Regions from separate parts of the Homo sapiens genome. Here region 1 is linked to region 2. The links come from fine-mapping of genetic effects on gene expression. A gene starts in region 2. The other region holds a variant in brackets. All regions are shown on one strand. Distances are from middle to middle. Region 1 overlaps ALDH1A3 (aldehyde dehydrogenase 1 family member A3). Region 2 holds the start of ALDH1A3-AS1 (ALDH1A3 antisense RNA 1).

The links. PIP is the estimated chance that this variant, and not a neighbour inherited with it, causes the effect. A credible set is the group of variants that fine-mapping cannot tell apart.
Region 1: its variant is the best candidate, but not a certain one, in a credible set for the expression of ALDH1A3-AS1 in prefrontal cortex (BrainSeq, PIP 0.71).

The regions. Positions count from the first base shown.
Region 1 is chr15:100,893,236-100,898,291 of GRCh38, reverse strand. ALDH1A3 (aldehyde dehydrogenase 1 family member A3) reads right to left here. Exons shown (of 13, transcript NM_000693.4): 6 at 4,210-4,338; 7 at 2,246-2,359; 8 at 107-209. ALDH1A3-AS1 (ALDH1A3 antisense RNA 1) reads left to right here. Exons shown (of 2, transcript NR_135827.1): 2 at 2,226-5,056. Among named protein-coding and RNA genes, the nearest start is that of ALDH1A3, 16 kb to the right of the region's middle. The variant TC/C (reference allele first, on the strand shown) is at 1,876.
Region 2 is chr15:100,916,571-100,922,084 of GRCh38, reverse strand. It overlaps ALDH1A3-AS1 (ALDH1A3 antisense RNA 1), which reads left to right and starts at 2,802. Exons shown (of 2, transcript NR_135827.1): 1 at 2,802-3,281. It overlaps LRRK1 (leucine rich repeat kinase 1), which reads right to left and starts at 2,728. Exons shown (of 34, transcript NM_024652.6): 1 at 2,634-2,728. ALDH1A3 (aldehyde dehydrogenase 1 family member A3) reads right to left here. Exons shown (of 13, transcript NM_000693.4): 13 at 5,459-5,514. RefSeq lists enhancers at 1,100-1,159, 1,686-2,277, 3,452-3,571, 3,622-3,711, 3,464-4,056 and silencers at 2,492-3,081, 3,842-4,061.

The DNA.
Region 1 (5,056 bases), 24 kb after region 2:
GTGCACACATCTTACTCTCAGTTGGTTTTGAATTCAGGCCAGGAAGTAGGGGGAGACAGATGGATGCCCTGAAGCCCCAGCAAAGCCCAGGAGGGCAGAGACTCACAGTCAGCGTCCGCACACACGATGCAGGGGTTCTTCCCCCCCAGCTCCAGCGTCACCCGCTTCAGATTGCTCCGGGACGCAGCTTCTTTAACCAGTTTTCCAACCTCCAGGACAGAACACAGATCACAATTTACCTTGGATGTTGCTGAACTTGGCCCAGGCGTAAACATCAGTGAACATTCTGATCAAGCCCGGGTGGCAGTGCCACCACCTGGCTCTCGGCCCAGGCGCTCCAGGCCCCGATGCCGTCCCTTCACTGTCCTGGCCTCTGCCAGCATCTCCTCCCATGCCAGACCATGACATCCTGGGATCCTTGGTCTAAGCCGCTCCACTTACAGGTGTGAGTTAGAGCCTCTGGAAGCCCACACAGCTGGCTGGGAACAGGGCTGCCACCCGCTAACCTGTCCTGGTGCCTGTCCTTCTGAGCCCAGCAGGCTGGTCCAGCCAGTCTGGTAAAGGGCTTCAGGGACCGCAGGGTGACTCTTCTACCTCTCACTAGAAACAGCTGAAATTCCAACAGCCCAGTAGGGGGGTGGTTCTGTGTGGCTCTTTGGTGTGATCTGAGGGAACCTCCAAGTGTTAGAGAAGTAGCGAGGGCAGCCAGCCTTCCGGATGAGAAGGAGCCGATTCTCTGGAAACACACTCTAAGACTGAGGCTGCCGCAGACAGGCAGGGAGTGAAGGGGTGCGCTATGAGCAGAAAAGCCACTCACCAGTCATGCTCAAGGCCCCCACGGGGTCTCTCCCATTGCCCACTGTACCCCTGGAGGGGAGGGCTGGCCCAGCATGACTCGGTGACTTATCTAGGGCAACAAGTAAAGCCCAGCACCACGAACTTCAGAGCTGGGAAGATCCTCAGAGACCAGTGCAGACACGGAGGCCTAGAGCCAGAAGCTAGCAAGGCGCGGCCCAGGCTCTTCCGGGTCTGAGACTGTTTTCTCCAATGCTAAGGTGTGAGCGCATTTTAAACATCAGCAAGCTCATGGGTGATGGCTGAATGAGGTCTGGAATCCATCCACAGGGCAGTGTCTGTCTCCAAGGAGAGTAACAGCATCCACCAGGGCTTGGACTAACTAAGGAGGGGGATGGGGACACTGATTGCAGCGGGTGTTTTTTTCTTTTTTAAGTACAGAAGAAATACTTTCTCATTAAAAGTAATTCCACATAGAGATGTATGTGAATTACAGGGAGAAAGCCTTCAGCTTCCCTCCGGCTCTGCCCCGAGCCCACCCCATAGGTGGCCATCAGTAAGGATTTCTTGGGAATCCTTCCAGATAATTTCTACTTCTACAAGCACACACCTCTACGAATGGGAAAATATTGTGGGTAATTTTCTACCGTTTGCTGTTTTGTGCTTCAACAATAGATCATGGACAGCTTTCCTTGTTGTAACGGCTGTAAAACATTCCAGAGAATGAATATAATATCCTTGAAAATATGTCCCTGAAGCCTCATGAGAAAATTTCTCTAAGTAGTTTTTTCTTTTTTTGAAATGGAGCTTCTGAATCGAAAAGTTTTTCACTTTAAATGTTGGATGAGTGCTACCAAAACACTGTGCATCTTAGGGCAAGTGTCGCTGAGCACCTGCTTCCCCATATTCTCAGCAGTATCATTTCAGTTCTTAGCAATCTGGCAGGCAAAAGGAAAGTCTGATTTTGTTTGAATTTGCATTTTCCTGATTACCAGCAAACTAGTTTAAGCTTAATGGGCACGTCGTATTTCTATTCTCTGAACTGCCCATTTTTCTACCATTCAGTTTGGTTTTTTTTTT[TC/C]ATTGACTTGTAGGAGCACTTTGCATATGACGGATATAAATTCTTGGAGCACTGCATGCATCACGACTATTTTTCTCTGAGCTTGTTATTTATCTCTTAATCTTAATTATGGTGTTTGACAGATGAATATTTTACATTTCTACTTTATCTTATCTCTCAATCTTTTCTTCTAAGGCTTCTGAGTTCTATTAGATATTTATTTAGTTTGGAAACTAGACCAGTGACTTTTTTTAACTGGTTGTTATGTACTAAAACATGGTCAAATTTAGAAGAAAAACAAATCATATTAAAGCCTGTCAAAGGAAAAGCTCACGGGTGTCAAATAACACGCCCCTTTCACTTTCCCCAGCACCCTGTGAGGAGGGTTACCTCTGTGGAGCCGGTGAAGGCGATCTTGTTGATCTGAGGGTGAGAAGAAATTGCTGCTCCCACTGTGGGCCCGAATCCTGGCACAATGTTCACCACTCCTGGAGGGAACCCGGCCTGGGAAGAAATCAAGATAGCACTTGAAGAAGAACGGACTTCATCCACCACGGATCCACATTTGGGCCGAGAGAGCCGTGGCTGCCTCACATCCCCACAGGGAACCCGGGCCGGGCTGGATTTACCCAGGACCCAGAAGCAGTTGACCGTGGGCACCCTGGGAGCTGACCTGGGCTTCTCATCCCCTGCTGCCAGCCCAGTGTGCAGGCTGGGCAAGGGGAGATGCCCACTTCTCCTTCTGGGGGGGGACCCCATCCCAAAGTGATATGCAGTGCAAATGTGTGGTTATGCTTCAAGGTGGCCATGGCCCGCCTGTAGCACAGCACCTTTCCATGTGGGGTGTGTGTGTGTGTGAGGGAGAGTGTGTGTATGCGTTAAGGGGAGAGGGGTACCTTGATCAGAATGCCCTGCCCAGGATCAGAGGCACCTGCAAAATATCTGCCAAGAGCTTCAGTTTTGTTTTTTCTTCTTTTTTTTTTTTTTGAGATGGAGTCTTGCTCTGTCGCCCTGGCTAGAGTGTAGTGGCGCGATCTTGGCTCACTGTAAGCTCCGCCTCCCAGGTTCACGCCATTCTCCTGTCTCAGCCTCCTGAGTAGCTGGGACTACAGGTGCCCGCCACCACGCCTGGCTAATTTTTTTTTTTTTAAGTAGAGATGGGGTTTCACTGTGTTAGCCAGGATGGTCTCGATCTCCTGACCTCGTGATCCACCCACCTCGGCTTCCCAAAGTCCTGGGATTACAGGCGTGAGCCCAGTTTTCATTTTTTAATCAGACCCGTTATTATTCCAAATGGTGACAGGGTATCACTCCCTTAAAGTTCTTTGCTTGTTCAACCTGGGTCTCACCTGGAGCAAGCCCTTCTGGAAGGCAGGGACTGCCACCTCGTTCACGTTCATGCCTCGTGTTTTTCATATACTAAGCCTCTTTATCAGGCGAGAACACAAAACAAACGAGGTGGAGGATGCTCTTCCCCACCTGTGCTGAGTCTTACTTAGAACACATTATTTCAGAAAATCAAGATTTTAGGCACGCTGCTTGAGTCTTTAGATTTTTAGGCACTGTTTCTTAACAGTTGGGATTTTCACATTCCTAAGTCTCACCAGTGTGACTTAATTATGCCCCACATCACCAAAGGAAAGTGGAAAATTGGCTCATCACCAGCTGTTCCCACCTTGCTTCTAAGCAACTGTGGACCTGCCTGCCGGTCATATCAGCCCGACTAAGAAGAGAAAGGAATGGATCTTTTCTTCTGTCCCTCTTTGCTTCCTGTTGCTTTCTCTAAATCTTTGCTCCATACAACCTGGGGATGGAATGACTAAAGGTATGTCTGGAAGGAGGTGTCCCATTGAGCCTCTGTTTCCCTAAGTTCTGGCTGCCTGAGGGAGAAGAGATTGCATTCAGAGCAGAGGGCACTGATTAGCAGGGACCCGGCACACGGACTGCTGCAGCCGCCCAGCTAGAGCTGACGAGGCCACCTCTCCAGAGAAAAATGGACCATTTCATAAACTGAGAATGCAAATCCCAGAGAACCTCCCAAATATTTGGCTCCCTCTTGGTTGACCCCCCCTGAAAATTCTCTAGACAAACCACTGGGTCCTCAACCATAGGTTTGAGCCCATAATAAGAGTTAAGCATTCTCATTAGGACCACTGGGAGGAATGGAGTTTCTCCAGCTCAGTGGCCACAAGCAGGAGAAAGAACGTGCAGTCGCCAAACAAAACACTGGAAGTCATTCCCTTCCCACTCGATTGCCAGCAGTCTGCCACTGTCCCATCTCGTGACGGTGGCCTGGTTCCTAGGAGTGGGAATGTTACCAAGAACATGTGATATTTTCTTTTTGGATGTCTCACCTCTTTGATCAGAGAGCCGAGATAAAGGGCGGTGAGAGGTGTCTGCTCCGCAGGCTTCAGGACCATGGTGTTCCCACAGCAGAGGGCGGGTGCCAGCTTCCACACCAGCATCAGCAGGGGGAAGTTCCACTGCGACAGAGCACAGGGGCTTTGGAGGCCCAGATCCACCCTCTTACCCTGTCCCATGTGCTCAACGATGCCTTTGTGGAGGACACTTGCTTTTCATGGTCTGGATTTGGGGTATGTGGGGTAACATAGGAGTGTGCAATGATCAGAACTGCAATCCTGCACAGCACTTCCTAAACTGCATTCTGGGTGGTACTAATAGGCAGCCTTTGCAAAGAGGATGCTGTTGCATGTGTTCTACCTCTCCCTCTAAAACATCTGCTGAAGACGTGTCCTCCTCCCTGCCTCCATGGGCACTTTTTGAACCCTCACTTCATGTTGCCACCTGGCTCTTCAGCTTCCTGCCTGGCTGTTGTTGCAATGGCCAGAGGCTTCCCAAACAGACAGGCAGCATTGTTGCACTTCTTGGGCACCTATAAGCATCCCCACCGCCCAATGAATAAAGTCCCGGCCCCTTAGCAGCCAAAGCTGCTGGAAGCTGGCCCACACCACCTGCCACGTGTGCTCACCCTTTTCCTCACTTTTGCTCCTGCCTGAGCTCTAGCCCCACCAGCTTTCCTGCTGTTCCCTTCCAAGTAGCCCAGCCACCTCTGCACTTTTGCCTAGGCCATTCCCACTCCTTGGAAAATCCTTTTCCTTGTTGAACAAGTCTTTCTTATCTTTAAGGCCCAGCTAAGAGACCACCTTCCTGGGAATGCTGGCCATTCCTGACCACTCTGGC
Region 2 (5,514 bases):
TTTCCTTTTGCCAACTATTTATACCTGCATTAATGAATAAACCTAAACATTTAATGGAAAAGAAAATAGATGGGTGCGGTGGTTCACGCTTGTAATCCCAGCTCTTTGGGAGGCCGAGGAGAGTGGATCACTTGAGGTCAGGAGTTCGAGATCACCCTGGCCAATATGGTAAAAACCCATCTCTACTAAAATTACAAAAATTAGCTGGGCATGCTGGTGGGCGCCTGTAATCCCAGCTACTTGGGAGGCCGAGGCATGAGAATCACTTAAACTGGGGGAGGTGGAGGTTGCAGTGAGCCAAGATTGCACCACTGCACTCCAACCTGGGTGACAGAGCAAGACTCTAGAGAAAAGAAAAGAGAAGAACCTGTCATTCATTCTACAAATGTCTTATTGAGTTCTTTCTATGAAGAGGGAACTTCATGAGTTTGTGAAGCTGGTGGGGGAGCAGACAGCTAAGTAATTGCTATAAAGCTTCTGACAGCAGAGAAGCCCAGATATTTTAGGAGGCTTGGGAAGGACTGTCGATATCAGTTAGAAGTTAGAAGTCCCTTGCAAGCAAAGCATGCTAGACATGCTCATTCATATCACCTAGTTCCTTTTTGAAACAAAATCCTGGTCAAAATGGTTAGCCCATGATTCTAGAAATCTCTTGAGTGCTATTTGCATCCCTTACTAGCATTGGCTTTTGCCTATAAAATGTGTTTAATGGGTTTGGGGGCATCCAAATATCTTGGAGCTGCAGGCCAGAGAAATATGTTGTTCTCAATCCCAGATGAGCCCAAAAAGGGTGGAGGAGAGAAATGCTCCATGAGTCTGAAACCACAGGTAAGTTAGGGTTGTCCATTCCCCATCCAGTCACTCTACCACCATGCACGGGGTATCTCCCTGTACAGTTATGGGAATGAGGGCACAGCAATAAGCAAGACAGATCAGTCTCTGACCCCAAGAGCTCCAGTGGAGACCACAAGATAATTAAGGAGAAATTAAACAGATAAAGAAGGAGTACAGAATGGGGACTGCAGGGAGGCTGCAGAGTGAGGGATGTGAGAGGGAGCGTGGGTTTTCAGAGGGTGACCAGGGAAGACTTTCTGAGGCTGTGTGAAGAGTCAGGAGGCAGCAGTGCAGGGGACCAGTGCTGGACAGCAAGCTCAGCCAGTGTGGCCTGGGGCAATGGCCTGGTGGTCCGAGACAGCAGAGGCTGGATCAGCTGGGGGTGTGAGGAGAAGGAGGTCTCCTGGATTGCGTGCCAGTTGCAAGGAGAAGCTACTGAAGGACTCCATAAAGAGGACTGATATGGTCTGATTTACCCATTTAAACACACAGACACACACAGACGCACGCTGCTATATAGAGAATGGAGGAAGGGGGAACTGAAATCCTACAGTAAAGAGATGCTGGTACCCTGGACAAGGGGCAGGGTGGGGGGTGGGGGCATAAGAAAAAGGGGACAGATCAGGACACATTTTAGACATAGATTCAACAGACTGAATGTTTTTTATCTGAGGATCCGAGTTGACTGCGAGGTCACTGCCAGAGACATCGACTTTTGGGAGAGGGAAAGGTTTGGCTGACCGCAAAACCTCCTTTAGGAACAAATTAGGTGTGAGGTTAGTTTGTTATATTATTTTCTCTTTCAGGACATAGGCAAAGATGAAGAGAATCAAATCATAAAAGGCGTTTAATGTTAACATTTTCCAAAATTGTGCATGTTCTAGCTATCCCTTTAATGTCTGGGCATTTTGATACCCTGTGAGTGGCTGGCAAACTCTATCATTAGTGTACACGGTGAGAGGTTTGCTGAAAGCTATATGCCCCCGTTTCTCTACCTGTTGCAGGGGAAGTGTTCGTGGGAGAAAAACTTCGCGGCCTCATACTGTGAAGGGGTAGGTTGAGATGGCCACGGGGGTTCTCAGATTCTCCACCAGCGTCTCCTCGCTGACCCCGGCCTTCCTAGGCTTCCTTCCCGCGTCCCTGCCTGCCAGGAAGGTCCCCTGTAGCTTGCAGAGACCATGGTAGACAGAGCAGTTGTATCTGCGCCAGCCAGAGACCACCTGGGCAAGAAGCGTGACCCAGACATCGAGGAGGGTGAAGCCTCGCTGGGCCGCCCCGCAACCCCAGGAAGCCCCGGACCAGCGAGAGGCTCCCGGGCGGTCTCTTGCCGACACCCCGGCACGGGCTCACCCGCGCGCTCACACTCCGCCCGCTCCCCGCTAAGGGACTGGGTTCGCTCCAAAGGCAGAGGAAACCTATGGGCTCCCCGGCTCGTGTCTCCCGACTCGTGTCTCTTGCCTCCGCTTCCCAGCTTTCCCGACCCTGCCCGGACGGGGTTTCGGGGTTCCCTGCTCGGGCCCCGCGCGCTCCCCTCCCACAGGCTGGCTGGGCTCCGGGCGCGGCGGGAGGCAGCGGGGACGTGAGACCGGGGTCGCCCCACACGCCCTCCGCGCCCCTCGGGCCGCGGCCCCTGCGCAACGGCCCCCCGTGCCCGACCACGCGGCCGCCCGGAGCGCAGGGGCCCGCGGGCAGGCAGAGGCCGAGGCTCCCCGCGGGCGCCGGGCGCGGGCTCTGGGTTCCCCGGGCGGGGCCGGGAGGCAGCCAGGCCGCCGGGGGGCGCCGGCAGGAGCGGCGCTTACCTGAGGCGGCGGCGGGGCCGGGTGCGGGCGCTCCGGGACGCGGGGCCGGGCGGACACACTGGCGGGGCCGGGGCCTGGCCGTCCCACCGCCGTCTGCCCCCCGCGCCGGGGCCGGGCCCAGACGCACTTCCTCAATCCTGAGGCGGGCGGGCGGGGAGGGCGGCGCGAAGAGCGCGCAGAGCAAGGCCGCCGCCAGCTCTCCCAGGAACCGTCGCGAGGCGTCCCCTCGGCGGCCGCCTCAGTTTCCCTGGCCGTAAAACGCGGGCGATGGCGCTCGATGCCCCGGGAGACGCCGGGGTCCGCGGGCCCTTCCGGCACCGGGTCCTCCTTCAGGTTCGGGCACCCGGCTGCCTCCACGCGGGGCGAGCGCGGCGATGGGATCGGTCCGTGCTGCGCTCAGCCCCGCTTTCGCTATCCCTCTGCTCCAGGGGCAGCAAAATCAGCAGATGAGCCCCCAGCGCGCCTGCGGCCCACACACTGCGGCCGTAACAGTTAAACAGACGGGGAACATTCATGTGCGTAGAGCTCTTCACGGGGCGATACAGAAATGTGTCGTTCTAAAGCGTTAACGACCTGCAATTTGCATATCCTCCAACACATGGATTTTACTGATTCAATTATGGATGTGTGCAAAGAATCTGCTGCTCGGTGAGTCATTGTTAATTGTCGGCTTTGGGGGGAATACATAAAACGTGGAATATTGGCAATTTATCGTGTTTCGACCTTTTATAAAGGCGTCACCAGGCTGCTGAGGCTAATACAGAAACGCAGACCATAAAAAAGATCTGCGTCCACGCTGCAGGCGGGCCTCACGCTGAGCTCCCCGTGTCGACCCGGGGACAAAGCCTGCTCAGGAAGAGCAGAGGGTTCCACGCCCTGCAGGACCAGCGCCCTGGGCCCCTCTCCTGGAAAGTTATGACTCGCACGTTCCCAGGATTTAGCGCACATCTCCCCCACCCTCACTGCCATTTCACAGAACCGGGGCAGCCGCAGGGCTCCTGCAGGACCTCCCGGACGCCGCGGGGCCGTGTTCCCTTGAGCGGCTTCTTGGGTCCCTGGTTGGAGAGGGGACCACCGAGCAGCTTCGCTCTGCTCCTGGGAGGCTACTTCTGCCACTGGACGACTTTCCAAAAGGGTGAGCGCAGTTCTGCAATCCTGTTCTCACCCCTGAGGGCCTCACACCAGTTTGCAGGAGCCAGCAGTGTGATTGCCACCGACAAGTTCCCAACAATTTGCAGGGCGTGGTGTCCTCAGTGCTGAGAGAGCCCCGCGACGGCGGTGCAGCTCCTCCAGGGCGCGCAGCCCCGCCACCTGGCGCCACCGCGAGGGAGCGCAGGCCCAGGGCCCGGGCAGACGCTGGAGGGGACGCGGCAGGTGAAGATGGGGCACCTCCACTTCCCTTCTAAAGGAGCCTGGGAATAGGCTAGGAAATGTCCCCACTGTAGAAGACAGCAGGAACATCTGACACGCGGATAACCTGTGCTGAGCTCGTTATATTCCCAGCATTTAATTCTAGCCATTAGGCATGCGTTAGCCACAACTTCGCATAGGAAGGTTATTGCAGGTAAGTTAAGACTCCTTTCCACTTCTTCCTAAGGGTCGCTGACCCATGGTTCTCTAGCTTTTGCTGGTAATCCCACCCAGATTCTCAGCACCCTAGGTTGGAATGACCCCTCCTGAGGTGGGTGGGGTAGCTGGGAGGCACCTCCCTGAACTGACTTTTCTGCCTTTTTGAAGGTGCAGTGGCTGAGCGCTCCTTCAGTGTTTTCCGGTTGTCTTTCTTCAGCCCAGTACGCAGTTTCCTCAGACAGTCTTCCTTGAGCAACTTCCTAAACGCCCTTCATTATCCCCCTTCAAGCTCATGCCTAGGAGCAAGGAGCAAAGCCATTAGAAAGGCTTCATCCACCAGCAGGAGAAGCTAGGACATCCCAAAGGGTCCACTTCTAGAGAGGTGCCAACCCCCACACGCACACCAGGCACACAAATGCATGTGTGCACACGCATACCACACCCTCCAATTGTCCCCAGAATGGCTCCCTTCAGGGAGTCATGTTCCGGGACACCAAATGAGGGAAAATATCCTTCTCCTACAGTTTCCTGCTCACATTTGGATTGAGAAATGGGATGTCTCTAAATAATGTGTCTAAATTCTCTTAACATAAGTGCATATGTTACGAGAGATCTGATCCCAGCCTCCCTTTTTTGTTAAAGTGGTGGTGCTTTGCCACCCATGTCAAAATGATCTGGGCTTTCCACATCAAATGCAAGGGATGAGCTTGGAGGACATACCCCAGTACCAGCAATGATCTTGAGCCAATGGCAGCGTCAGCTCACAACGGGGTGATTGAGGCTTCTTGGTTAGAAGCTTTAGAAACTTGAGGTCAGTAAAACCCAAATTGATCCTTTCTCTAGATCCTCTAGATTTCTCTAGAGGAAAAGGTGACAAAAACAGACACTTGTGCTCACCGTCAGGGGCACAATGCTGTCCGTCAATCCTCATGCAGTCCTCCCCACCATTTCGCACACTGACACCATCACTACTTTATGATAAAAGGAGACTCAGGCAGCTTAGATAACAGCTGAAACTCAGCCAGCTATGACATGGAACCTCTGAGGCCCAGCTCCTTGCCTGGTCAACCCCCAAGCCCACAGAAATGGGTTTCACACTCAGGCAAAGCACTGGGCCCGACTGACTGAGCAAATGTAATTTTATGCTTACATTATTGATCCTGCTTTAATATCAGCCATTTCGTACAGGTCTCAGAAAGAGAAAGGCCTGCCATCGAATTCAAATGACTTTGGTCTTTAAATGAAAAAGCACAATGTTTCTCAAATATCCAATTTTATTTTATCATTCTCGCATTGTGGGATGCGATCTGCA